4 separate regions of the Homo sapiens genome follow, and all the other regions are reported to be linked to region 3. The links are microRNA targets in miRTarBase. Many come from high-throughput screens and were not tested one by one. Region 3 holds a microRNA gene; each other region holds the end of a gene's coding sequence.
Evidence for each region. The annotated mature microRNA hsa-miR-6875-3p reads AUUCUUCCUGCCCUGGCUCCAU and lies in region 3 at 2,571-2,592, opposite strand. An mRNA with a match to its seed (bases 2 to 7 or 8) in the 3' UTR can be bound and repressed. Matches are read on the target gene's strand: a 7mer-m8 pairs with bases 2 to 8, a 7mer-A1 pairs with bases 2 to 7 and ends in A, and an 8mer does both.

Region 1 (7,123 bases), not on the chromosome of region 3:
AGTTTAAAACATCTCATTATCCCCTCTCTGCTGTATTATTTCCCTCCTTTCCCACCCAAATTTGCTTCCCACACTGCATCTAATGTATTCTCTACACTGCAGCCAGAGGGATCTTTCTATAAAATGCAAATCTGTCACTCTCCTATTTAAGATCTTTTAAAGGCTACTCTGGATCCTTAAGATAAAGCCCAAGTTTCTCAATATGAGTTACAAAGTCTTTTGTGATTAGACACCCCACTTTCCCTAACTTCTCCAGCCTTCTCTCTCACTACTCACCTCCCCTAACACACAGCATAGGCTCTGACCTACACTTATTGAGCTTCTTGCAATTTCTGGCATATATCCCCATTCTCTTTTGGCCTCCAGGCCTTTGCTCAGGCTGATCAATCTGCCTGAGCCCTCACCTCTACCAATCAAGCCTCTTTCCCTTGACTTATGTCTGCTTATACATTGGAGGTCTCAATTTAGATACTCCTTCTTCTGGAAGACCCCTCTGCCTGATTCCCTGTGTTTCTGGTAAACACAGGGAATGTGTTTCCTCTCTCTGGCTCTCCCATTACACTCTACTTTCCCATGTATTTGTGATTTTAATTGTTGGTCTTTTCCACTAAACTATAAATTCCCTGAAGGCAGGGTTTGTGTTTAGGTTGTTCAATATTGTATCCACAGTGGCTAGCCCATGGATGTATGGAAGCTGGAAAGATAGAAATAGTAATACTTCACAAAAACTTTGGAGATCCCTTTTGTAAGGCAACAATGTGCACTGTGTGTGTGTGTGTGTGTGTGTGTGTGTGTGTACTATAGATCAAATTTTTCCTTCTTGGTGTTTTGGGATGCTACTTGCTGCTACTATGGGTGAAGCCAATGGAAGGGAGTCTATGTTTGGAAAATTAGAAGACGGGAGGGCTGCTGGTGTCTAGAGTACTCTGGGAATGCTGTTTCTTTGACCAAAGTCTTGGGCCTTGCTGCTGTCCTGACTACCAGATGGCAAGCATATATGCCTCACAATGGGGCTGAGAAAGCAGTTACCTGTGTGGCAGAAGGGGAGGGATTTGTCCTTAATTTTTAGTGCAGAAGTAAAACACTTTGAACATGACCATCTAGTCCTCAGTATGAATAATTTCATATGATTTTTCCCCAAAGAGCAAGTTTAAAATTTTTTATTCTACATATGTAAGATGTACATTGTGGGTTTTAATATACACTGTGATACCTCAATCAAGCTAATTAACGTATCACCTCACATAGTTACCATTTTTGTGTGTGTGGTAAGAACACTGAAGATCTCTCAGCAAATTTCAAATAGACAGTACATTATTAAGTATGATCCACATGCTGTACATTAGATCTCCAGAATTTATTCATTTTAACTTTAAAGTTTGTATCCTTTGACTGAAATCTTCCATTTGCCTCGGCTCCCAGCCCCTGGCAACTACTGTTCTATTCTCTGTTTATTTCTATGAGTTCTGGCAACTACTGTTCTATTCTTCATTTATTTCTAAAGAGATTCCACATGTAAGTGAGTTTGTGCAGTATTTAGCTTTTTGTACCTAGCTTATTTCACTTAGCATAATGCCCTCTAAGTTCACTCATGTTGTCGCAAATGGCAAGATTTCTTTCTTCTGTAAACCTGAATTATATATATATGTATATACATAGATGACAGTTTATCCATTCTTCTGTCAGGTGGTTTCCGCATCTTGGCTATTGTGAATAATGCTGCAGTGAACATAGGGTGCAAATATCTCTTTGACATACTGTTTTCACTTTATTTTCCAGAAGTGGGATTGCAGGATCATGTGATAGTTTTATTTTTAGTTTTTTTGAACAGCCTCCATATTGTTTTCCCTAATGGCTGTACCAATTTATTGTCCCACATACAGTGCACGAGGGTTCCCTTTTCTCTACATCCTCACCAACACCTGTTATCATTTGAGTTTTTATATATCTGTTGGCTATTTGTATATCTTCTTGGAAAAACATCTATTCAGGTCCTTTGCCCATTTTTTTTATCAGGTTATTTGTGTTTTTGGCTATTGAGTTGTTGAGTTCCTTATATGTTTTTGGATACTAGTTCCCCATCAGATATATGGTTTGCAAATATTTTCTCCCATTTCATAGGTTCTTTCATTTTGCTGATTGTTTCCTTTGCTGTGCAGAAACTTTTTAATTTGATGTAATCTCACTTGTTTACTTTTGTTGCCTGTGCTTTTGGTGTTATATCCAAAAAGTCATTGTCAAAACTAATGTCAAGGGGCTTTTCTCCTATGTTTTCTAAGAGCAGGTGTTGATAATAGGAAGGAAACAACAGGAAATTTAAGGGCAGTAGGACCCTTAACTATTCAAGACTGTTTAAATGGTGTTTGTACTTAAAGTAAAAACTACCTGAGCATATTTTAACATATGCCTCAAGTCTGTAGCGTGGATCTGGATTGCAGATTCTCCAGTGCTCAATCATCCTATATTTGTGGGAAGAGAAGTCTGACATTTCCCAAAGGATTAAGTAATATTGTTTGATATGGAATAAAGTGCCATGTATATTGAGCTTCTTTAGGAGGATAGTTTTATTTATCTTTTTGGATTTCTGTCAAAATAAATGCAAGGGGAGGGAGGCCCAGTGCTCCACTGGTTCCTTGAACAGAGGTGAATTTACTGTGAAACAATGGCTCTTAAGCTTCAGGGGCTCCTGCTTGCGTGAGCTCTAGCCATGTATTTACAAGATCATTGTCATATTTACAGAAGTAAGACATTTTAAACATAATTGATGAATGCCATTGATTAAGACCACTGCCTCTTTTCACTCCCACTTCCCTTGATGTCGGGTGGTGCTGAAGTGGCTGTGGACAAAGAGAAGTTGAGTTGGGGATACATTTGGATTACAGGGATATATTCATGTTGTTCACAGTCACTTCTGTGTTGAGTTACTACTAGCTGTCCTGATTAGGAGTGGCTTCCAGGAATATTCTTATAGACTTCTGTGCTAACTCATCTGGCATCAGGACAGTACATCAATAACAAACTGAAACATCATAAGCTTTAGACTCTGAGAAACCTGGATCCACCTGCTCAATGAGCATAGTTCTTTGACTATCTAGAGTCTGTGCAAACCCGTGAACACCTCAATTTGGCATCCCAAGTAGAAGAGTGGTGATAGAGGATTCTTTGATCCTTTGATCTACTGCCCCACATGTTACTGTCCTGGCCAAGAGCAATGAAAGATCTATTGTTGGAAAACTTTTGGCCTGATTTTACACTATTATTTGAACTACAATCTAATTTAGAACATTTTAGAACATTAGAACATTTAGAACAAGGAGAAAATGTATATTTTTTTCAGTTGCTGTGTATCCTCTCTGCTTTTGTAGCTATGTCTGTATAGCAAAAAGAGAGTGAGATGACTTGACTCTTAGTCTGTATTAATTCCTAATTTAACCCTCCCTACAATCATTTGTTTAGTTCATTACAAAGAGTTACTCTTTCAGCCTATTATATTTGTTGTTGTTTTTATAAAATATTTTTAGTAGAAACAAAAATATTATATAAAAATATAAAAGCTTTCATAAATCCTTAATGTAGAAAACAGAAGTTTTTTAAAAAATAGAATCCACTAAGTTTGTTGTAAATTCTTACCTTTTTTGGCATACAGTATATGCATATTATGTTTAACTTAGTTAAAACATTTTATGACAAAAGTGGATCATATCCATATTGCTTTTAAACTTGTCTTTTTCACCTAACAGTATATCTTGGACATCTTTCTGTGTTCTTTTTAAAGGGCTGTCCAGCATTGGGTGGTGGGGGGAGTGGTCTTGTTAATACCATTTAGTCAATCAATTCCTTATATTTGGGTGTTTTCTGGTTTTGGTGTTTCTTTTCCTTTTTTTTTTTTTTTTAACTATAACAAATGATGCTATAATGAGCATTCTTGTTCATATATCTTTGCACACTTTGGGAGTTGTTTCCCCCGGTAATATAAATTTCTAGCCATGGATTGCAGGATCAAAAGATATTTACATTTAAAAACATTAACAGATGTTCTCAAATTGCCATCTAAATCATTGTACCAATTTATAGACTCGCCAATAATGTATGAGAGTGCACTCTTTCTCCACCCTTGCCAGCCCAGTATTATCAATCACTTTAATCTTTGCCAATCTTGAAAATAGTAGCTAAGGGTTTCTTAATTTTTATTTATTTAACAGTAAAGTTGGACATCTTCTCATACCTTCATATTATTATATTCTTCTGTGGCTTGCCTGTTCATATCCTTTGCCCATTTTGAAAAAAAATTGATTATTTTCTTACTTACTTGTAAAAGTTATTTGGGATTACTTGGGATATTAGCCCTCTGTCTTAGCATGATACTTGGTTACAAAGGACACTTACCATTGCATTATTTTAATATTTCTTACTTTTTCGTTGGATACCATATCATCACTGAACATACTGCATTTTAAACTCTTAAATTAAATTCTGCTATGAAAATCCCTTCAGTTATAGACTCAATGATGCTGCATGTGGGTTATTAATAGCAATAAAAGGAGATGTTTCATAGAGTTAAAACATTACAGAAGTGAGCATTAGTCAAAAATTTACTCAGAAGGTAAACTTGTTCTGTATTAGGGGAGGAAGTTGTCACTTTTCTTCCCTAAGCCAAGGAAGGAGCCTAAGTCGGAAGCAAAGTTTCCATTGCCAAGCTTACATAAGTTCTGTGATTAGAAATTAGTCCTTGTTATAGCCGAGTGCATATCCTGAATAGTTCATTTTTATGTTTCATGAATATACTGCTCAATATTAGGCTCTATATTTAATATTTATATCTAGAAAAGTTAGACAATTTTTTTTTTGAGACAGAGTTTTGCTCTTGTCACCCAGGCTGGAGTGAAATGGCGTGATCTCAGCTCACTGCAACCTCTGTCTCCAGGGTTCCAAGTGATTCTCCTGCCTCAGCCTCCCGAGTAGCTGGTATTACAGGCGCACGCCACCACACCCGGCTAATTTTTGTGTTATTAGTAGAGACGGGGTTTCACCATGTTGGCCAGGCTGGTCTCAAACTCCTGACCTCAAGTGATCCACCCACCTCAGCCTCCCAAAGTGCTAGGATTACAGGTGTGAGCCACTGCACTTGGCCAACAATTTTTAATTGTATAGGAAACTAGCATTTTTGAAGTACTTCTGAATTTAGCACCTAGGTCAAATTACGTTGGATATGTTTTCATGGAAACTGTTGTATTCTCTTATTTTGCATGGTTTGGCTCTTAATTGCTTATAATTCTGGTACATATTGAGTACAAGGAAAATATATTTTAAATATGCATAAGTTAGACTTGCTACAAACATTGAGATTAGAAGTTGCAAACTGACCACTAGGTCATATCTGCTCCACAGGCGTATCTCACATAGTTTGAGAACTATTTTGAACTAGTTGCTAAAGCTTAAAAATAGAGGAATTTCTCTTGAAAAGTGGAATTTTGGATAATAATGGATTTTATATATATATATATATGTTAGTCATGGACTGTCACTACATAGTAGCTATTATTTTTAGACAGAGTAAGTGCTCTCCAATTTGCCAGAGCTCCTGTCATTCTTTAATATATTACAGCTGGCCTACTTCACTCATGTACCTTATGTAGATTCCTCTTTCGTTATTTATAGGTATATATATACATAAAGGCAGCTATATAAAGAAATTTCTTAGTTTTTTCATTAATAAATTCAAGACATCCGAAGCTTCTTTGCTTTATTATTTTTCTGGTACATTCGTCTCCTTAAAAGGAGACATTAGAAGCAGTAAACATCCCAGAGATAGTAACTTTCTTCTTCAGAACTTTTTCCAACAAATCACTCCATTGGCTGATGAAAAAGAAGATGACTGAAAAGGTTTATACTTCCTGGAGTTCCACTATCTTGCGCTGTAATTTCTTTAGGTCTTTCTGTACTTTATATTTCTCTAAATCCATCTTTGTTTTCTGTATTTGTTGGAGGGAGCTGAGAGAGTCATGAATTGATTTAAATCCTGTAAGAGGGTAAAAGAATAGGTACACTTAAACAATGCATTAGAGCTTTTTTTTAAAAAAGTTGCTAATCGGCAGTCCTGCCATAATTGATTATCATTTAATTCCAAGCGCATTAAATTCTATGAAGACCAGCCTAAAATTGTACATAATATATTTCTTGTATGTCATGAAGATCCATTCACAATAGTGTTTCAACTTATATCTAGTTATCTGGTTTCATTGTGAAATTTATTTTTCTCCTCCTCAAATATATTGCATAATTCTATATTGCAAGAGAGAAATTTAAAATATTTTATTCTTTCTGAATGCTTTGATGAGAGACTTGTGTGATTTTTTTTCAGTCTTGTTACCAAATTGAAGGTAAAGATCACAGATGAGATTTTAAATCTTCTCTGAAAGTAGCCTATTTGAGGGACCTAACAGCGGCCCCCTGCTGCCCTCCTCCCTCCTAGCACTTTGTATCTCTCTTATGCATGTCTAGTCACTCCTGACCACAGACCTATCAAACCTCAAGGCCTTAGGGCACAACCCATTTGTTATTCACTGGGGCCTTTCACAGAGTCGTTTCTCAACACATTTTTATTAAAGGCATAAAGCAGCAAACCATTAATTTGAAGTTCCCCCTTTTTAGAACTCCTCCTCATTAGTAAAATGAAAGAACTTGCAGGTGGTAAATTCCTTTTCAGTTCACCCTGAAGTTTTACTAATGGAATAAGTAAAATTAAACCTCTGATAGTTAAACAGAAAGCAGAGCCTTTAAAAGAAGGGCCAGTTAAGTTTGGGACATGATTCCTGGCCAGATAATTCATTATTTTGATATGACGGTGGGAGGGGTATATTGTGAGGGTTGAATTTCCAGGCAGCAAATTCTACTTATATGCCAGGAACATCTGGCAGATTGAGACCCTCATGTCCTCCCAAGGCACCTCCAAGGTATCTCTATACAGGACCAAATTTGGTAGAATTTACACATGAATTTTTCTGAGATCTAGAAGACAAAAGAAAAAAAATTACTTGGGACTTTCTCTAGGAAAGAAACTCTTCTGAGTCCTGGTAATTCCCTCAGAATTATGACTCAAGGCAGATGGCTGCACCACAGCACC
Region 2 (7,123 bases), not on the chromosome of region 3:
TGGAGGGATCAAGTGGAGATAGGTTATGAAAGAAGCTATGTCAAGGGTGAATGTAACTCAAAATAATCACACATTTAACAAGATACTTCAACTGAATCTTATTTTAGAATTATTGTAGTTAGAATTTCCTTTTAAAGTTGTAAGTAGGTAACATTTTATTTGAAGATAAATTTATATGATTTTTATATTGTATAATGAGTAAAGAACTAGGATACAATGAAGTCTACCTCTATTTAAAGGAATGATGTTGACAAATATATACGTGCATGTATTTTGAAGATTTCATTAACCAAAATAGAAGAATAAGAATTTTCTATCAGCACTGTTTTTGTTTGGAATTAAACATTTCCATACTAATATAAATGCCAAAAAATAAATCAACTTTTACATTTCTTTCAGTTTTAATAGTGTAAGATCCTAGTGAAAGGTAAGGATATGTATATTAATAAATTTTTATTTTTTAATGTCCCTAAAAAATGTGCCATTTTACCATGTTTGCTCCGTTATTACTTGCATGGTCTTATGTCCAGTTTGTGGTTAGTAATTGAATATTGTGCATAGTATCACAGTATAGAATCCACGTTCATTATTCTCTAATCATAGTCTCATTGTTCTTGTAAATTCTTCTTCCTGTATTTATTGAAGCCTTACACCTTTTTATACTGTAGTCAACCATCCAAAAGTAAGAAGGCATTTCCCCCTCTAATAACTTTCTCTGCAGTTATCAGTCAGTTAAAAGAGCCCATGTAGTTTTAGAATTAGAGATATAGGGTGGAAAAGATAAAATACTAATTTGAGGTGTGCGTGTGTAGTGTCAGGCTCCGTACTTGAGAGCCAAAGGTTTAAGAGTCTTGATTTTATGCCAGGGATGCCTTCACTGAAACTCACCCAAATAGCAGAAGACTGTTTTCATCAATTTACTAATATCAATGTTATCTAGCACCACATGTTTTCTTTGTCCTATTGATTTATCATGCGATATTGCTTTGATGTGTTCTGTTGTTACTTTGCGCCTTTGGGGTTCCACATGCCTTCGTGGGAATCTCGGGGTGCAAGTAACACTGTATAAACGAAAATACTTTGAAAATTGCAGTGTAAACAAAACTAGCTCAGATGTTTGACACTTTGTTTGAAGTCTTTATTTCTCTTGTTTTCTCTCAATAGGAATATACAGATGTTGCCACAGGAATCTAATCTGAAATCGTACAAATGGAAATGACGCTACAGGAGGATGTTTGGGAGCATCTCTCTCTTTTTGTCAGGAGTTAGAAGTGACACTAAGGCACTAATACTGTAACTTCTTGATAAAATAACTTTATTTTTTAGTAGTGGAATGCTGCAACTTTTTTACACCTAACAATTGCTTTTAAATTACAGTATTCAATTTAAAAGTTGTATTAACTACAGTTTCCTTTGCAAAAAGTCTCAAAAGAATCACTTGAAGGGCATTATTTGTTGATGCATTTTTCTCTGAGCATGGTTTCATAGAGAGAACTTCACCAAGTAATATTCAGACGTTTATATGTTGAAAGTTTTGCTTACATAATAAAAACAAAAACAAGTGTCTGAATTGTATAGTGTCTTTACATGAAAGAACTTTAAACAGTGGCCTTATGGTAGAAAATTTTATACCAGATTTTTCTTTTTCTGATGACATTTTGGCTTATAACTCGAAGTTTTCTTAAGTTTCTGAAGATCAAGGCCTATATAATTCATACATTTCATATTATAAGAAGGCAAGAGACAAGGTGCTTCAAATATTCCATCAGGTAGTTGTGAGTGCACTGAATTTTTAGTAATATGTTCATTCAGTTTTTTTCCACAACTATTTGCTCTTTTCCAATTTCAAAATGCTATTGTGGAAAATATGTAAAGATTTTGTAATCTATAGTCCATCTTATTTTTCCCTCAGGGCAAGCTTGTGCATATCATATTTTTAAAGGCTTTTTAAAAATCTGACAAACAAAATCTCATATTTGAAAATTGTACTTTACTACTACAGCATTACACATTTTGCAAGCACATCTTATAGAGTGTTTACTTTTAGTTCAGTTGATATGTATTGCATACCTACTATGTGTAAGAGCAAATGGATGGGATTTTTAAATGAAATTTTTAGGCCCCAATACCTTATTTCTTTATGTTTTCTGTGTTCTGCTTAACAGTACATATACATTCCCAATTACATTTTTGTGAAATGTTTATTTGTAATAAAATAAAATGTTGTTGCTCTTTCTGCTTAAATAAGTTACTTGCCAGTTTGTGAGAGCATTATTTTAATTTTGTTTGAGACTTATAGCCTTGGATAGCACCTCTGTTTAAACAGTGTTTAAAGCACTGTTCTGTGCTTACAAAGACAGAGCTTTCAAAATTAAAATGTGAAGGTTGATAAGAACTTGGTTTTTCATGACTGGATGTGAAAAATCTTAGTACATTCAGTTTTCTTGTCCATATCTTTAAAAGAGAGGGCAGCCTTTTCCTTAAGTGAGTTCATGATAAGGGGGGCAAGTGCACTTGATTCATTGCTAAGCAGGTAATAAATTTGGGTAGATGGCCTGTCTTGTACTGTGTACAATCTCTATAGGTCAGGTTTTCCAAACATATTTAGCATTCCACTTATGGTAAGAAAGAAATGCATGCACACAGGTAGTATGGCAACTTTATATTGTGTTAGGTACTTATAAAATCTGTCTTAAATTTTAAAATAATTGATTTCATTTACTCCCATATTCTAGGGGACAGTAATGAGCTTTGAATATTTAATCATTTGATTGACAACTATGTATTGCACAGATACTGTACTAAAATTACAGCAATGAACAAGAAGACAAGACACATGGACCCTGCCTTTATGGTACGAAGAGTCTAATAGGAAAAATGGACATTAAACAGAAATATAACTTGGTAAATCGCCTTTATAGCTCGCTTTTTATTTATTGTAACACATAAAGGTAAGATGGCTGATTTACTATTATTCATTCCACAACTGATTCCCTATTTGGATATTCTTTTGGCACTGTCTCAATATGCAAAGCGTGTTATCTGCAAAATACCTGTGCAGAAAACATTGTGTGTATAAGATCTAAAGCCTAAAAGGAAAAACCAACTTTATAATTTAGAGTATAAAATAAGGACAGGGACCGTGTCTGTCTTGTCCACCATAGTATCCCCAGCACCCAGCTTCCTATTTGACGTGTGGTAAGAGTTCATTAAATATTAGTTGAATAATGAATGAATAAATAGGGAATAATAGAATATGTTTATTAGGAACTACATGTGTAATTTTCATATGGAGATTGAACAAAAGGTTATCCATAGCATTTTTTATTGACTGGAAAGAATTTGACTTCTTGAATGCATAAGACTTGAGAAGAGAAGTTTTTTTTTTTTTTCTTTTTTTTGATAAGTCCCCTACCATTGCCTCCTCACCTTCCTCCACTACGTGCTAGGCCCTTCGCTGGTACTGGGAAGACAAAGATAATAAGACACAGTCCCTGCTGTGAGGAAGCTCATGCACTGCTGAAGAAGAGATTCACAAAAACAAAGAATCACAATGTAGAGTAAGTACTTTAGTGGACATATATACAAAAGGTTGAGAGGAAAGTTGACATTTCTGATTCAGCATCCCCTCGTCATGTTTCTTTCCTATTGGTTTCACCAACCTCAGAAGGCACTATTCTGTTGGTGGTTTTACTGGTTTTAAAAATTGATGCATTGGGGGAAACTGGGTAAATTGTACGCGGGATCTCTCTGTATTATTTCTTTTATAGCTGCATGTGAATCTAGAGTTACTTCAACATAAATTTCAATTTGAAGAATTGCCCATAGTCTTATCACAGAGAACACTATTATAAATATTTTAGATGATACATTTTCATTTTTTTCTATTGGAAAAAAACTCGCTACATTTATGTGTAACAATTTATGTAGATGTATACTATGTACCACATTTTACCTAATAAATCCTACATTTTTGAATAGTTTTTTTTTTAAAAAAAAGACGGGGATACTTCCAGGCAGAAGCAAGAAAAGTAAAGCTGGATGAGAAACTCTTATTGTCTTTATTACCCAGCAAATTCAGTAACCACCAGGCACAAATTCACCAGGAACAACCAAGCAAGGAAGGAAGAAGAAGCTGATGCAACAAGGTGTGGTATGACTTCATCCCTCGCCCATCCCCAGAAGTAGCACTGAGTAAAACAATGGAGATGACAAAAATATTGGTAACAGTGGGCCCCAGTATGGACAAAGGCACTGACGAGGTGACCAGGCCACGTGGAGGAGAGTCAAGGAAAACTCTTGGGACAACGAAGTCTTTGCTTCCATCTCAGGACCTCAGCAGAAGGGGTAAGATTCACCAGGACTAGGCATTTCCCAGGTCTCAGAGCAGCCTGGGAAAGCCAAATCCTGCAGAAGTCAGAGACACCTTTGACTGTGTCTAGTGAGTTCTGGTTCTGGACATTTAATGGGAACCTAGAAGAGAGGGGATACCAGGTTCCCCAACAAAGTTCCGTCAAATAGGATGATTATGAGCTCTGAGTCCATTAAAATACAGAATGAACATTTAAGAACTGAGGAATCATAGATGTAGAATAGTATGTAAATGTTATAAATCTTGACAAAGAAAAATTAATGTACATTGACAAATTCAGACATGGAGGAGGTAAAGTGGGATAAAGACTTAAGAACTAACCGTCTCATCATTCATGGCCAGGTGTCATGTCACGTCATGTCTTAAAATTATAATATGGGGAAAAACGCTAGTGACCAACCTTAAGTTTTTCCACAATCTTTTTTTTCCTTGACCTTAATACAGTGGTTCTCAAAGTGTGGTCCCAGACCAGCAACATCAGCATCACCTGAGAACTTGTTAAAAATGCAGATTCTTGGCCCCACCCCAGACCTCCTGAATCAGAAACCCTGGGGGTGGGGCCAAGCAATCTGTGATTTAACAAGTCCTCCAGGGGATTCTGGCACATACTTGAGTTTGAGAATAACTGGCTTATTTATCCCTTTTAGGAACCAATGAAGAAACATTTATCTGAAGTTCAGCAGCCCCTTCAATTTAATGCCTAATTTTTTTTCTATTGCATTCAAATAAAGTTAAATCTAAAACTTGTTTGCTGGCCGGGCACAGTGAGTCACGCCTGTAATCCCAGCACTTTGGGAGGCCGAGGCGAGTGGATCACTTGAGGTCAGGAGTTTGAGACCAGCCTGGCCAATATGGTGAAACCCCATCTCTAATAAAAATACATAAATTAGCCGGGCGCAGTAGCATGCACCTGTAATCCCAGCTACCTGGGAGGCTGAGGCAGGAGAATTGCTTAAACCCGGGAGGCGAAGGTTGCAGTGAACCGAGGCCACGCCATTGCACTCCAGCCTGGGCGACAGAGCGAGACTCCATGTCAAAAAAGAAAATAAATAAATAAAACTTGTTAGAATAAAAAGTTTAGGGATTCCCCCCGTCAATCCTGTCTGTACATATGAGTGAATTGAGAGGTCTGGAAACATACCCACCCACTGTTAACACTGTTGATTTTTTTAAATGGTGGGATTATGAGTGACTGTACTCTTCTGTATCTATCAAATATAATGAATGTTGTATCATTTTTATAAAATAAAGTCTTTCTTTTTTAAAACAGTGGTAAGAACATTTCATCCTATCCATTATATATCTGCTACCAAAATCCAGGTAAACAAGCTTTTACGTTATAGGCTGGCTACTTCACTATAGTCCATTGGGGTTTTATTCCCGGCCATTCCTCCCACATCATAAAAAGTAGGTAGGCTTATTTTAAGTATGTATTGTGTTGAGTTTTAAGTACAAATTATTGATTTGTAATATTTAACAATAATATATAAAAAATTAAATTTGGCCAGGCACGGTGTAATGCCAACACTTAAGGAGGCTGAGGTGGGTAGATTGTTTGAGCTCAGGAGTTTGAGACCAGCCTGGGCAACATGGTGAAACTCCATCTCTACAAAAAATACAAATATTAGCTGGGTGTAGGGGCGTGCACCTGTAGTCCCACCTATTTGGGAGGCTGAGGTGGGAGGATCTCTTGAGCCTGGGAGATCAAGGCTGCAGTGAGCTGTGACAGCCTGGGTGACAGAGTGAGACCCTATCTCAAAAAAAAAAAAAAAAATTCATCTTACTGCTTTTCTTTTTAAAAAGAAAAACAACTTTTTTTTCCTGATCAAAAGTTGTTAAAAGACAACAGGCCCAAAATGGTGTCACTCATGCTAAGGTTCCATATCACCAAACAGAAACCTAAGTTGTTTATTTGGAAGATGTGACCTTCCAACAAATCAGAAGAGACAGTAGCCAAATTCCATTAAGCCAGCAAGATTTCACTTATATCCCTGTGAGGAAAGTAACCTTGAAATGGCCAGTTCTCTATTTGTTCCTTGTTCCTGCTTTCCTCCACTTTTTTCTGCCTATAAAACTCACCCACTTTGTTTAGCTCATTGGAGCTCCTTTCTAATTTGTAGATTGGATGCTGCCTGGTTCATGAATCACTAATAAAAGCCAATCAGATCTTTGAAACTCAGTTTGTTGAATTTTTGTCCTTGACAAAGTAGATAGAATAGTATGTAAAAGGGAGAAAAATTTGTCTATAATCCCACTGCTCATAAATATTTAGTGCAGACTAACATTTTGGTATTTTCTCATTAGTCTTTTTTCTGGGCTTTATTGTTTTGGTAGTTGAGATTATACTTTATTACATTTTTAAGGCCACCTTGTCCGGCCTTAAAAATGTTTTATGAAATCCTGAATTATATTAAAATTTAGGGGTTTTGGCTGGGCACAGTGGCTCATGCCTATAATCCCAGCACTTTGGGAGGCAGAGGTGGGCGGATCACCTGAGGTCAGGAGTTTGAGACCAGGCTGGCCAACATGGTGAAACCCCGTCTCTACTAAAAATACAAAAATTAGCTGGGTGTGGTGGTGCGTGCCTGTAATCCCAGCCACTCAGGAGGCTGAGGCAGGAGAATTGCTTCAACCAGGGAGGTGGAGGTTGCAGTGAGCCCAGATCGCACCACTGCACTCCAGCCTAGACAACAGAGTGAGACTCTGTCTCAAATAAATAAATAAAATTTAAGGGTTTTGTTTGTTTTGATG
Region 3 (7,123 bases):
TGTAGAACATACAAAGCAGCCCACGTGAAAGACGCGATCAAGGGCCACAACCCCAGCCCCATCCCCAACCACATCTTCTCCGCAGCCACCACACTGGCCTGAGGACAGGGAGAAACAGCATCAGTCTTCACAGACCCAGGAAGCCACTGTCCCCTCTGTCTCCCAGCCTCCCTTCCCACGTCCCACCCACCCCACAGCCTCAGCTCACCAAAGTACTCCCCGCTGGGCGGGTGGTTCATGTCGTGAACCAGCTTCTTCGTCAGCCTATCCAGCTCATCCTCTGGAGGCTGGCTCAGGGGCACCTGGAAGGTGGGAATCGGGCTCGGTCCTACTCTAGCTCCTGATGCTGTAATACCAGGGCCCTCAGCCGCCAGGCCATGGCCTGTTAGGAACTGGGCCACACAGCAGGAGCTGAGCAATGGGCAAGCAAAGCTTCATCTGTATTTACAGCTGCTCCCCATCACTTGCATTACCGCCTGAGCTCCACCTCCTGTCAGATCAGCAGCGGCGTTAGATTCTCATAGGAGCATGAACCCTATTGTGAACTGTGTGTTCGAAGGATGTAGGTTGCAAGCTCCTTATGAGAATCTAATGCCTGATGATCTGTCACTGTCTCCCATCACCCCCAGATGGGACTGTCCAGTTGCAGGAAAACAAGCTCAGGGCTCCCACTGATCCTACATGATGGTGAATTGTATAATTGTTTCGGTATATATTACATTGTAATATACATTGTAATATATACCGAAACAATTATATATACTATATATTCTATTATTATTATAACAGAAATAAAGTGCACAATGAATGTAATGTGCTTGAATCATCCTGAAACCATCCCCCTCCCACCCCCTCCCATCCCCCTCCCCAGTCCATGGAAAAATTGTTTTCCCCAAAACTGGTCCCTGGTGCCAAAAAGATTGGGGACTGCTATAATGTCTCTGAAGGTGGCCAGGCAGTTCCAGCTAGAAAGCTCATCTGAGAACATCTCAGCCCAGGGGCCCGTAGGCAGTTCTTTTTTTTTTTTTTTTTTTTTTTTGAGACAGAGTTTTGCTCTTGTTGCCCAGGTTGGAGAGCAGTGGTGCGATCTCGGCTCACCGCAACCTCCACCTCCCAGGTTCAAGTGATTCTCCTGCCTCAACCTCCCGAGTAGCTGGGATTACAGGCATGTGCCACCATGCCTGGCTAATTTTGTATTTTTAGTAGAGACGAGGTTTCTCCATGTTGGTCAGTGTGGTCTCGAACTCGTGACCTCAGGTGATCCACCCACCTCAGCCTCCCAAAGTGCTGGGATTACAGGCATGAGCCACCGCGCTCAGCCCCAATGGGCAGTTCTATCCTGCTCCCCCGCACTGCCCTGCCCTTACCTATTCCACGTCCCAGACCTCTGACTCTGCTCCAAAACCAGCCCCTTGGCCAGGCGCGGTGGCTCAGGCCTGCAATCCCAGCACTTTGGGAGGCTGAGGCAGGCGGATCACCTGAGGTCGGGAGTTCGAGACCAGCCTGGCCAACAAACTGGGGTTTTAGTGAAACCCCGTCTGTACTAAAAATACAAAAATTAACCAAGCGTGGCAGCGTGTGCCTGTAATCCAGTTATTCAGGAGGCTGAGGCAGGAGAATCACTTGAACCCGGGAGGCAGAGGTTGCAGTGAGCCAAGATGGCACCACTGCACCCCAGCCTGGGCAAACAAGAGCAAAACTCTGTCTCAAAAAACAAAAAAGCCCCCTAAAACACCACCAGCCACCCCACCCAGTCGGTGTCCCATTGTCTGTAGGGCCTGAAATCCCAGTTCCCCAGGGCTCACCTGGGGCCCGTGCTCGCCTCCTCTTCCTCTTCCTGCAGGGCCAGAGACCCCAGCAGCTTCCTCTTTGGCCCCTGGCCCTGGCTCTCTCTGGCTCCTATAGCCAGGCCCCCAGACTTCACCTCGGCCTGGGAGAGGAAAGTGGGGGCCCGGGAGGGGCCCAGAGGCCTGAGAGGCTCCCCGCCTGGGTGGGCCGCAGCCCCTCACTGGCTGTGCCACCTTCACTTGCACGGGGAAGGCTGGGCCAGCCGGGGTGCTGGCGGTAGTGTAAGAGGCTGGAGTGGGGCCCCCATAGGGAGACGCTGGGAGCGGCGAGGCTGGATTTGGCTTCAGGGAGCCCGTGCGGTAGGCAGGAGGTGGCGGGGGCTCATATGCCTGAGGAGAAACGCAGGCCAGAAGTCGTAAGCAAGGACCCCACTCCAAGACCCACATTTGTGGAAATGACCCTGGCTGTGGGGAAGCACAGGCTTTTTGCATTTGACAAGGTCCCGTCCTCAAGTGGCTGACATGTTGGTACTTGCAGCCACGCTTCCTCCATGCTGGGGTGCACATTACACACATGGGGGATCGATCAGGCTGGGTCTGAGAGTCCAGAGAAGGGGGCAGGGTGCTGACGGGGAGGAGGGGCAGAGTCACCTGTCGGTCTGGTCGCCGTGACGCATGACCCCGACCCCCATTCAGCTCGGCCAGCGTGCTGCTCAGCAAGTCTATCTCGGCGTCCAGGCTTCCAGGGCGAAGGCCCCCCCTGTCTGCAGGGAGCCCCTGAGGATGGAGCCAGGGCAGGAAGAATGCAAATCACCATAGGCCTTCTCCTGTCCTGGGTCCCTCAGACTCGGTTCTGGGGGATCCCACATGTCCCACCCCACGATCCCGGGTCTCACCTGCGTGTGCTGGAGTACTCCATGGGACCCCACCCACGCCGGCCCCCGATCCTCCGGTCCCCCTGGGGCCTGGTAACACTGCTCAGATGGAAGGGGGCAAAAATTGACCCTGGGGTGGGGCTGGAGTGCTGGGTTGAGGGAAGAGAAATCAAAGGTGGGGTGGCGGAGGACAGGAGGGGTGTATATTTGAGGAGCCACCCTCTCCGCCTCTCGTTACCTCCTCCCCCAAATCTAGGGTCCCAAGAGAGCGCAGGCGGCTGTTCCCCCCGCCTCGGCTTGGGGAAGGGGCAGGAGGAAGCAGCCAGGGCGGGAGGCTGGAGCGGTAGGACAGAGGTGAGCGCCACAGCTGGGTGGCTCTTCTGTCTCACAAGGGCTGCCTTACCTGCTCCGTGGGCCGGTGGTGGCCCCGGGGTGCCGCGGGGGATCGCCCTCCCCTGAGGGGCTCTGGCGGGCTCCGGCTGCTTCGGGGGCAGCCAGGTGGGCCCCGACATGGCCTGGAAAGGGGGACTCCAGACAGCGGTCTTGAAGCCCCGAGCCTCTGGCCTTCACCCCCTCTTCCGTCCCGCACCTCGTTTGGGACTCCAGAAAAGAAAACTTTTTCTGGCTTTTTTTTTTCCTCTTCCTCCCTAATTTTGGGGACGACCACGCCTCCGATGACGTCACCACATTCCTGGGGGAGGGTCACGTGGCCCCCTAGGCCCTAAACTGCCATTTCTCCCTGAGTCAGCCCCCTCCTGCCGAGAGGGGAGGGCTCTCCGGGGGATCCCGAGTCACTGGGGGTTGCGGGCAGCTGGGGATGGGAGGTGCGGGCCCGAGCCAGCCTCCAAGTCCACGGATGCGTCCGGGCCCCGCACCCCAGCCCTGCACGTGGCAGCCTCGCGGCGGGAGGCTGAAGGCTCCGATCTCCACCCCTCTGCAGAGCTCTCCATTCCCACCCCCTCCCTCTCAGCTACCCACCAGCACTGCTCAGCCAGCCTGTAGTGTTTTGGTCTTTTATTCATGGTCAGCAGAGTTAGAAAAATAAAACAGAACGAAAACATCACCACCCCAGTGGGCCGGTGAGTCTGGCCAAAATGGGGAAACTGAGGTAGCCCAGAGTCACAGAGGAGGCCTGGCCCCTAGCATCAAGGCACCAGTGAAGGGAGGCTGCGGACTCCCTCCCCTGCACGGTGGGGACAGCCACCCAGAGTTAGTGTGCTGGGGTCCCTCTGCCAAAGGAGGTGGGCGTGATGCCCAAGCCCAGGATCCCCTTCAAACCTCCCCTGGGCTCCACGTCCCAAGGGCAGGGCCACGGGCCACAGTGGCCTCCTCTTCCTCCTCCTCCAAGGATCAGGATAGGCCGCCTGCCTGGGCCCTCTCTACCTAGCCCTGGAGGCAGGGGCATCACAGATCAGTGCAGGTGACTGGAGTGACCCCATGAACCAGCAGCGTGGGGCCCAGGTCTCGGGTTAGAGTCTCCAGTAGCGCCAGGTAGCGGGGGTATCGGGCGGGATCGGCTGGCGGCCGAGGCAAGTACAGGAAGGTGAGGGCTGTGATGGGGCCCTCAGCATCCCCACCCTCCGGCCCACCCGGCCCTCCTCCTGTGCCGCGCCCCTGCTGGGCCCGAACCAGGGCGTTGGCGCTGCGTGCCAGGGCCTCTGCCTCTGCGTCTCCCCGCCCACTGTTCACAAAGTCCCCTTCCTCCTCCGCCTCGGGTTCCCCAGCCCCGGCCCCCTCGCCCCACACCACCTCCTGCACCTCAGCCCGGATCCTCAGTTGGCTCAGCAGTGCCCGCAGCCGCCCCTCGGCCGCCCCAGGCGCCTCCCGAGGCCCCAGGCACAGGAAGATCCGGAGCCGGGCGCTATGCCAAGCGGGCACCATGCCCAAGATGGTTGCCATCTGCAGCAGGAAGAGGCCGCAGACATCCACATAGCCGGGCCCACCCCGGGGCCGCAGCAGGTTGAGGGGCCACACGTCCACATGGTGCAGCTGAGAGGTGCCCCCAGACCCCCGGCTCAGCCGCTCAGGGGGCAAGGCCCCGCTGGCCCGGGCCAGCACCACATTCTTGTTCATCTTGAGGGCGTCGGCCACCGTGGCCACATAGTCCTGGGGATTGAGGGCCCGGGGGCTCCCAGGAGCCCGGGGAGGAGGGAACAGGGTGCTCAGAGCTGGGGAACTGCCCTCCCTGGTGCTGTCTGCAGGCTCAGAGAAAGCCGGGTCCGTCAGGAAATGGTCCTGCGGTGGAGCGTCATCGTAGAAACCTAGGACCAACGTGTTGGGCTTCATGCCACCTGGGGGCAGAGCGGGGAAGGCAGGAACAGACAGGAGTCAGGCTCACAGGCTAAGTTTACACCACGCTCCCACACACTGACAGCAAGGTGCGTCAGCCATAGGTATGACATTCCCACTGTGTACGGGCTCTTACGGCAACATTCTGCATATTTGCATAAAGACTTTTCATTTTTCCTAAACACTTTCACATGCATTTATTTTATTATCTCAGTGACTAATCTCCTCCACTTAAACAGGCAAAGTTCGCCTTAGGATTCTTGCCACTAATGAGCACTCCAATTCTATGGAGAGGAGGATGCTGTCCACTCCCGGCTTCTAGCGGGGCATCTGTTTCACGGCAGGGGATGCGAGTTTGACTCTGTTGTGCAAACCAGACACCCTGATCAGCCAAGCTCATGACCTGAATCCCCAGGGTAATAGCGTCCCAGACTCTGCAATGGGAAGATGAAAAAATGGACCAGGCAGGGCACCGTGGCTCACACCTGTAATCGCAGCATCTTGGGAAGCTGAGGCACGTTGATCACCTGAGATCAGGAGTTTGAGACCAGCCTGGCCAATACGGTGAAATGCTATCTCTACTAAAAATACAAAAATTAGCCGGGCATTGTGGTGGGCATCTATAATCCCAGCTACTCAGGAGGCTGAGACATGAGAATTGCCTGAACCCGGAAGGTGGTGGTTGTAGTAAGCCGAGATCACGCCACTGCACTCCAGCCTGGGCAACAGAGCGAGACTCCATCTCAAAAAAAAAGAAAAAAAGAAACAGGGCTACCCCGTATGTTTACTGCAGTAAACCCTAACCCTAGTAGGTTTTACCAAAACCCTAATCATGGTGGTTCATTGCATGGTATCCGCTTACCAGGGGCTATGTCCTGTAGAAAGCACTTTATATTTTAACTTATTTGAAACTCGAAGTAATGCTATGAGGTAGGTAATATTTAGTCTCCTCTTTTTACTGATAAGGAGCCCAAAGCACCAAGGGATGAAGTCACTTGCCCATAGGCTCATATCTGGTAGGTACTGGGGCAGGTAGGTCAACGCAATCCGCCTCCATCCAGCGTGAGAGGCCACACTCTGAGCCACCGAGCTGGGCACGTGGCAACCACAATGCTCCAAGTCCCTGCTGACAAGCTCTTCGTTCTTAATTTTTGAACAACCCTTGTGGAATCGGATAATTGCTGAGTTTACAGGGAGACGCAGAGACCTCTTCCAAGACCCCTTCTCATGAAACAAACACTGCTCAAGCCATAAATCAAATTTTCTATGACAGGAGAATCCACCATTTAAAGGAACTACTTTTCCTTTTATTGGAATAGGTTGGTGCAAAAGTAATTGTGGTTCTTTTTTTCCCCCATTAAAATGGCATCCCAGCACTTTGGGAGGCTGAGGCAGGCGGATCACCTGAGGTTGGAAGTTCGAGATCAGCCTGGGCAATATGGTGAAACCCCGTCTCTACCAAAAATATACAAAAATTAGCCGGACAATGCTGGCGTATATCTGTAGTCCCAGCTACTTGGGAGGCTGAGATGGGAGAATACTTGAACCCGGGAGGCAGAGGTTGCAGTGAGCTGACATTGTGCCACTGCACTCCAGCCTGGGCAACAGAGTGAGACCCTGTCCAAAAAAAAAAAAAAAAAAAGGCAAAAACCGCAATTGCTTTTGCACCGACCTGATATCTTCCACAGGAAAAATTTCGTATTTCATAAGCATTGTGGTCTCTGCACAAAAAGTGAAGACCAGGCTCTCAGATGTTCTGTGGGTCAATGATGCTTGACGACACCCCAAAACATCTCCGCAGGTGTGAATTCCAGCTGATCTTGCAAAATAAACTAGTCATGCCCCCTCCTCAGTATTTCCCAGGGTTCTGATTTACACTGAACTGGGCAATGTCCAACACTGTTGAACTTTAGCCAGACTCTGAATAGAGAAGGAAGCATGCACTTTGGTGACGGGCACTGGTCCAGGATTAAGGGAAAAGGCAGTGACTGAGCATAGATAACCCTGGTGGCCTCAGCGCTAAAAGCTGAGAATTTACCGCTCCATCCACAGACGTCCGCCCCACACAGCCTCCGGCATCCTTTGTGGCTTTGGGTGGCGGGGGCAGGGGAGACATGTTACATCTCCTACATCCCAACCTCTTTCAAAGTCTGGATGAATTACCATCTCTCC
Region 4 (7,123 bases), not on the chromosome of region 3:
AGACGCCCACTGGCTTTCAGCACAGAGATTTCAACCTTTGCTTCTGTCACATAGATCAGCCCAGGCATTCTGTTTTCCTGTTTCACCTGTTCCTACCCAGAAGCCATTTCCATACCCTAAAGAAGTGGCACTATGAACATTTTTGAGGCTGTTAATCTGTACTAAAAAACTGACCTCCAGAAACGTTATACTGATTACATAGTAAATACTAAATTAATGAAGAGTATCTACTTTCTTATATTTTTGTCAAACTTGAATATTAATACTTTTATTTTTAATACTAGATTTTTATAAAAAATAAAAGTATGAGAAAACATAGTTTAATGAATTTCAATGTATGCGAATATTTTACAAATTTTTTTGAAATTCACACGCAATATTCTGAAAGTTTACAACTGTCAATGGGTCCATACAAATTATGTAACATTTGAAACAATTAACAGAAATTTAAAGGGTTCTTATTTAACTGAATGTTTAAAAGTTCTCTTGAAAGGAAGCAATCTTGGAAGAAATTATTTAAAACATAGGATAATTAAAAATATGTTTAATAAAGAACAATAAGTAAATGTTTCAAGATAGAGTCATGCAGTTGGGAAACAATGATCTTTTAACTAGAGGTCCAAAATTCTTTTAAAAAAATAATAGATTTTTTATTGGTATCCAGGGAGCAAGGTTACTACTGTTCTTTTCTTAAACACACAAAAAGCACCAATTGGCAAGGTCACCTGTTTGTATCCATGAGATCATATACATGAAGAGTGATAAATAAAACCCAACCAATACTTTTATTAATATACAGGAATCCCCCCTTACCTGCAGGGCATCCAAGACTCCCGAGTGAATGCCTAAAACCACAGATAGTACCAAGCCCTACACATAGCATGTCTTTTCCTAGACATATATCCTTATGGAAAGGTTTAATTTATAAATGAGGCACAGTAAGAGACAAACAGGAATAAAATTGAACAATTATGACAATATGCTGTAATAAAAGTTATATGAATGTGGTCTCTCTCAAAACATTTCATTGTACTGTACTAATCTATTTTCTGACTGTAGCTGACCACAGGTAACTAAAACTGAAATGTGAAACCATGGATAAGGGAGGACTACTGTATGTGCTGTATGTGATTCCTAATACAAGGCTATTTATTTATTTAAAACGATTTATCATTGTGATGTCGTTTCTGCTTTTTAATACAAGGTCCTTCAAAAATTATTTGTTTTGCTCAGGGCAACTAGTTATAAGGATTTAAAGCACATGAATGTTCAATATTAAAAGGTAATTGAAAAAAAACTCCAAATTGAATCTCCAAATCTTCTAGTTTCTCCCATTGTCTGATGTTTGAAAACAGATGTGTTAATGACTACTACATCATGGCTTACTTTCATTTTTTTCTTCCCTAGCTAGGAAAGGAATTAGGAGAGCTCCCAATAAACATGCCTGTATGTTGCTGCCTCTACAAACACAAGGGAGGAACAAGAACAACAACAACAAAAACCTGACAATTTCCCCATAGCTGGCATATACAATTTAATTAATTTTGGATTTGTGAAATTTGGCATAAGGTGCCTAGGAATTGCTCCTGGCTTACTTAGAATATGAAAATATGAGATAAGACTGCCAGACCTAAACTTCTCCAGAAGAAGGGTAAAGGCTGCACACTAAATTTTCTCCTAATATGATAAAAGTGCCTCCAGCCTTTATCTCTTCTGCCCCTCTGCCTTTTGTCTTTTGGATGGTCATGGTTATAGATGTTGGGAAGGCACTGAGTTAAAGAGAAGACACTTGGGAATTAGATCCCTAGAAAATGGCCCTTGCCTTATGCCTTGTGCAAGTCCCGGAGGTGCCATTCACATTGTAGTCCATATGACCTGCCAGTTGCTTATGGTGATCTTTCTGCTTCTAAATCCTGCTTCCCAAAGTATGAGATACACAGGGCAAGCAATACATTCAAGAACCCAGCTTGCTAAATGTCTTTGCCTCCAACATCCTTTCAAATGATCATAAGTGGCATAACCTTAGTGAATTTGGGTCCCCATAGATACAAAACAAAGACCAGTGGCTTTTGACTCAGAAGACCAAGTTTCAATCCTGACTCGCCACATGCTAGTTTTGTGCTCTTGGTCATGTTACTTAAATTCTCGGAGTTACAATGTTCTCACCAGTAAAACAACAATGACAGATTCATAGAGTTGCTAAAGAGGATTAATTAGGATAGCACAGGTAAAGTTCCTGGCACACAGAAAGCACTTAATCAATGTGAGCCTCTCTGAAGTGAAAGTAACGCATCCTAATACTCAGGAGATTTAGACCAGAGAGCTATACTGTCCAATATGGCAGCCACTAGCAATGTGTGGCTGTCAATTAATTAGCATTAGACTTTAAAATTCAGTTCCCAGGATGCTCAATAGTCACATGTGATGGATGACTATATGTTGGACGGCACTGATATTTACCATTGCTGTCATACAGAAAGTTTTACTGGACAATAGAAGAAATGATAGAATTAAACAAGAATCCAAAGTCCAGAAGCCAACATCTTTGCCATTAACTACGAAACTCAAGAGGAGCAACTTTATCTCACTTTGTCACAATTTCCTCACTGGTAAAATGGATACTGCCTTTGCAGTAATGTGGTGGGGATCAAGTACACTGCAGTCACTTTTTTTTTTCCTTGCTTTAGTCTTTCCAAGACTAAACAATGCATGACATACTTACTAGCAAGGATCACTTTGAGGATGAGTTAGTTGATAGGTGCAGCCCTTTGGTAGTTTAATATTCATAGCCATGATTTGGTATTATTCCAATGCACCTGTGAGCAGTTAGGAACAGCATATGTTCAAAAGTGCAAGGAGCTACTGCAGACAGTCCTTGTGGTGATGGAAAGACAAAAAGTAACAAAACTGAATTGGTTTTCATTGGCAAGTGGCCTTTTGTAGACTTTTTGTAGCTCTCACAGGGTTTAAAATGGAAAGATCAAAGATCTTATTTCCTACTTTTCCATTTCTGTTTCACTTTAATATCTAAATCTTCCTTTCTCAGGTTTGAAAACAATACTCCGTTGCTGTCATTTTGGGGGCAATGTTGTATTTTTTTATTTATCTAGAGCTGGGGTTGGCAAACCTTTTATGTAAAGGGCCAAAGAGGAAATATTTTAGGGTCATAAGGTTTCTATCACAACTACTCAGCTCTGCTGTGTAGCATGAAAGTAGCCACAGACAACATGCACACAAATGGGTGTGTCTGTGACAATAAAACTTAATTTACTAAAATAGGCCCTTGGGCCTTAGTTTGCCAACTCCAGATCTAGAAAAATATGAAAGAACATATCCTTTTCACTTCCCCACATTGTTTCCTTCCCCACTATGATATATATTTTCTCGCTTATTTTAATTTTGAACATATAGTGTATTCTACAAATGATCACAATCAAACATTCAAATATTTACTTTAGTAATGTGAAAAAATAATATTCCTTCTAATTTTTATCAAGGCTTTGCACTTAAAAAACAATATAATTCTTAATGACATTTTTTTTTTCCTCAGAGAGAAAACTGAGAGGAAGAGACATGAAAATAAAATGTAGAAGAATTGTAATTTAATTCTTGGAGGAGGGGATAAAGCAATTAAATCATTTATGTGATTATTTCATAAAAGGATTAATAACAAGCAAATAGCCTTTTATTTTCAAATAAGCTCAAAGCCAAAACAATCAAAAACACTGATTACAACTCAAGATGAGATTTTGGGTGGGGACACAGCCAAACCATATCAGGTAGTTAATATGTTAAATGTAAACTTGTCTGAGTTTTTTATGGCCTATATTTATTGTATAGAAGACCACAAAAATTATTGTAAATGAACCGGGGCCAGATTCAGGAATAGGTTACTGACCTGAAACTGATCACTGGAGTCATATTCAATTTTGGGAGGTGTCTTAGAATTACCAAGAGAAGCTTCTTTCCTTCCTCTCTCCTTCCTCCCTCTTTCTTTCGTTTATTTGCTCATTTATTTTCTCTTTCCCTCTGCTCCCTCTCTCTTTCTCTTCTGAGGATGCTAAATTTGAGAACCTCACATGTAATGGCCAGCAGCCATTATCCACCTGTAAAAATGGCCTGCCTGAGAATAAAACAATTAGAGACAAGCTACGCTAAGGATGCAAAAAGAACAAGCTCTGATGGCTTTGAGCTTATTTGAAAATAAAAGGCTATTTCCTTGTTATTAACCCTTTTATGAAATAATCACAAAAATGATTTAATTGCTTTATCCCCTCCTCCAAATTGGGTTGACTGGAAACATCAATATTTACAAGTGATTCAAACATAGTCCTCTTCAGAGATCAAAAATTTAAAAATGTTGTCTAGTTGACATAATATAGGTTATTTTTTTTACTGCACCAACTAGTGATTAAGCTATCAAAAACCAAAACACAACTAAGAAGACATTGTTAATATTCTTCATTCATTGCATGGGCATTAAGAAAGGATGTAAGACTGATCTATCCAATAGTTTATTTCTCCATGGCAAACATGGCTCTAAACAATAATGACTTTCATACTTTTGTCCACACATAAAATTTATGAGAACAAAGTAAGCTGGTAAAAAAAACAAACAAAATAGTTTGGTCTACTACATATTTATACACTGAAAGGAAAATTAATGGTGGCAATTGAGCCTCACTTAATGGAATGAGTTATACTGGAGTATCTCCCTTTGCGTTACGCAGACTGACATCACAGTTCAACCTGTCAGACATCTGAGATACATTCCTGGGGTTCTGGTTTGTGTATAACTTTTATGGATTCAATAATCTCCTAACACAGAAATGGGTATCTGATAAAGTTGAGTGGAACTGGAATAATCCTGGAATGACCCAAATTATCAAATTTTAGAGGCATACCTAAGACACTAAGACTAGTGTCTTTGTAAAAAAAAAAAATGTTTGAGGAATAAAATTGAGTAAAATGAGAGATACACACAGATCTTACAGCTTACAAAACATAATTTTATTTAAATTTGTATAGATAAAAATCTACCAAAATTTAAACAAAAATTTTATCCAAATCCTTTCCCACAACAAAATTGGACATCATGGAAAAAAAAAACACATTCAAATAAGGTTCCCATCTTTCTACCATAAACTGGTAGATTCTGGGAGGATGAGGAGTAAGAGAGAAACGAGGAGAGAAGATAGTGATACTAAACACAATTTGATCTTCAGTGTTGTCTCATCTTGAAATATCTTAATAACAGAGATTTCCATAAGAATCAGGATTCATTTTTGACACAAAAATGGAAGCTTCCACTCCCAAAATCACAAATAAGGCTTCTGGTTTTCTTTTTAGTGTGAGGTAAACAGTATATTCAATATTAAGGCAAATGGTAAAAACACATGGATGGTATATTAATGCAGATATTCCATTATTAAATATATTTTGGAATACTCACGGATTTTTCAAACATATGTTAGAATTAGAAACCTGTAAAATCTGCAGTAGTGTGTAATAGCTATTTGCTTGAATGTCTTAGCAGTGCCTTTTTAGTAGCTAATATGTTCAGTGTAATCTTATGCCTTTTTAGTAATTAATATATTAAATATAATCTTGTCTGAGTTTTTAAATGGTCTGTTTTTCTTTTTCATTATGTAGGATTAGATGCCCACCAAAATTCTTGTAAATGAAGCAGGACTTGATTTCAAATTCTGTCTATACACACAATATTTGGCCACATAGACCACTCCCCAAAGTCTGCAAAACACTGCCTACTGGGCAGGCTTACAGTGACAGAAAAGTATGAGAACACAAGATATTATTTTTATAAAGACCAAAATCAGATTTAGGCTGTCTAGATATCTTATTCCAGAAAACACAGATTTAAGATTTTTCAGTGATTCTTGCCTTCCCCCTCCCCTTTTCTTCCCCAATGAGATAACCATTTCTTTCACAATGATGAACCATCCCTTTTTACGGAAAAATGGCTTTCTTTCTCCATTGGATCAGGACAAAGACATCACTTCTTGGCCACACTGGCCACAGCCTTCTTGGCTGCATCCTCCAGGTCAATGGCTGAAGTAATGGGGAGTCCGCTGTTGTTGAGTATCTTCTGGGCCTCTTGGACGTTGGTTCCTAGAAGGGGGACAGGGAACAATCACTGAATGAAACTAGAGGTGGCGCCTTATGAAGTTTGCACAAGGACACACAAGACTCACCTGTCTACAGCTTTTCACTAGGAAATGAATTAAATATAGGTTCTCATCAAGGTCACTGACAGAAAAGATTATGTGATGAAATTTATCTCAAGCTGTGGTCCAGCTAGAAAAGAAGATGAAAGCAAGGGCTTGCAAGAGGGAAATGAACATATTTTACTGATGGAAGCTGAGTTGTCTGCTGATAATCACAGCCATGTGGATTTAATGCGGTTTTGGCCCACACCAGAAGTCACTTGTCTTAAAGCCCTCTCAGACGTCATCAGGGGTTTGGGCTGTGACCTGATTTGAGAAAGGAAGTTCCGAGAATCTGCCCAGCTATGTCCACAAATCCACTGCTTTGGAGACTCTGGCGCATCCAGCATGTCCATTTCTGCCTTCTCCTCACTCTATAAAATGAAATGGGCTGAGCCCTTCAAAACGGGCAAAGCAGCCTCTGATGGCAATCTCTTGACTGTTCCTGGTGGATCTGGAGTATCTTCTGGCCAAGTCACTTCATTCAAAGGTGTGCTTGGGGACTATTTAACATGAGAACTGCTTTTCTGCCATTTTAGAGTGAACAACTCCTGTAGGAGAAATGTAATAGAATTTAAGTGTCTAATGAAATATCTCATCCTACATCATTTCCTGTGCTTTTATCTAGTTGGCAAGACAGAGCCTATTTATAAACAAAGACCTTGAAATATAGGCCTTGGAGAACTTGCCTTACCACAAAGAGTGCAGATAAAAAGAGGCACTGGGTCAGCACATTTCATATAAAGAGGCAAATGCTGGATTAAATAGAAATGGGTGGATTGAAAAGATGATGCAGCACTGATTCCCCTGGGACCCTGGGTCTACCCAAGCAGCAGTGAAGATGGCCGCTTGGCACTGTGTCTTCACCTTAAGGCTCACCTACTCCTGTTTTTACAGAG

Region 1: the mRNA of FAM81B is a reported target of hsa-miR-6875-3p. Seed matches in the 3' UTR shown: 7mer-A1 at 5,817-5,823.
Region 2: miRTarBase lists BCLAF3 as a target of hsa-miR-6875-3p. Seed matches in the 3' UTR shown: 7mer-m8 at 4,125-4,131 and 7mer-A1 at 5,028-5,034.
Region 4: the mRNA of SUCLG2 is a reported target of hsa-miR-6875-3p. Seed matches in the 3' UTR shown: 8mer at 5,916-5,923.

The regions. Positions count from the first base shown.
Region 1 is chr5:95,449,045-95,456,167 of GRCh38, reverse strand. It overlaps FAM81B (family with sequence similarity 81 member B), which reads right to left. Exons shown (of 10, transcript NM_152548.3): 10 at 5,727-6,019. The coding sequence ends at 5,886. Among named protein-coding and RNA genes, the nearest start is that of FAM81B, 61 kb to the right of the region's middle.
Region 2 is chrX:19,911,376-19,918,498 of GRCh38, reverse strand. BCLAF3 (BCLAF1 and THRAP3 family member 3) reads left to right here. Exons shown (of 12, transcript NM_001367774.2): 12 at 1,165-5,639. The coding sequence ends at 1,194. Among named protein-coding and RNA genes, the nearest start is that of SH3KBP1, 27 kb to the right of the region's middle.
Region 3 is chr7:100,863,549-100,870,671 of GRCh38, reverse strand. It overlaps MIR6875 (microRNA 6875), which reads right to left and starts at 2,636; the gene lies at 2,565-2,636. SLC12A9 (solute carrier family 12 member 9) reads right to left here. Exons shown (of 14, transcript NM_020246.4): 14 at 3,662-4,953. The coding sequence ends at 4,067. TRIP6 (thyroid hormone receptor interactor 6) reads right to left here and starts at 3,285. Exons shown (of 9, transcript NM_003302.3): 1 at 3,066-3,285; 2 at 2,684-2,811; 3 at 2,439-2,564; 4 at 1,806-2,177; 5 at 209-302; 6 at 1-98. The coding sequence starts at 3,174. RefSeq lists an enhancer at 2,498-2,597 and silencers at 3,038-3,187, 3,548-3,637.
Region 4 is chr3:67,369,731-67,376,853 of GRCh38, forward strand. SUCLG2 (succinate-CoA ligase GDP-forming subunit beta) reads right to left here. Exons shown (of 11, transcript NM_003848.4): 11 at 4,989-6,129. The coding sequence ends at 6,014. Among named protein-coding and RNA genes, the nearest start is that of MIR4272, 150 kb to the left of the region's middle.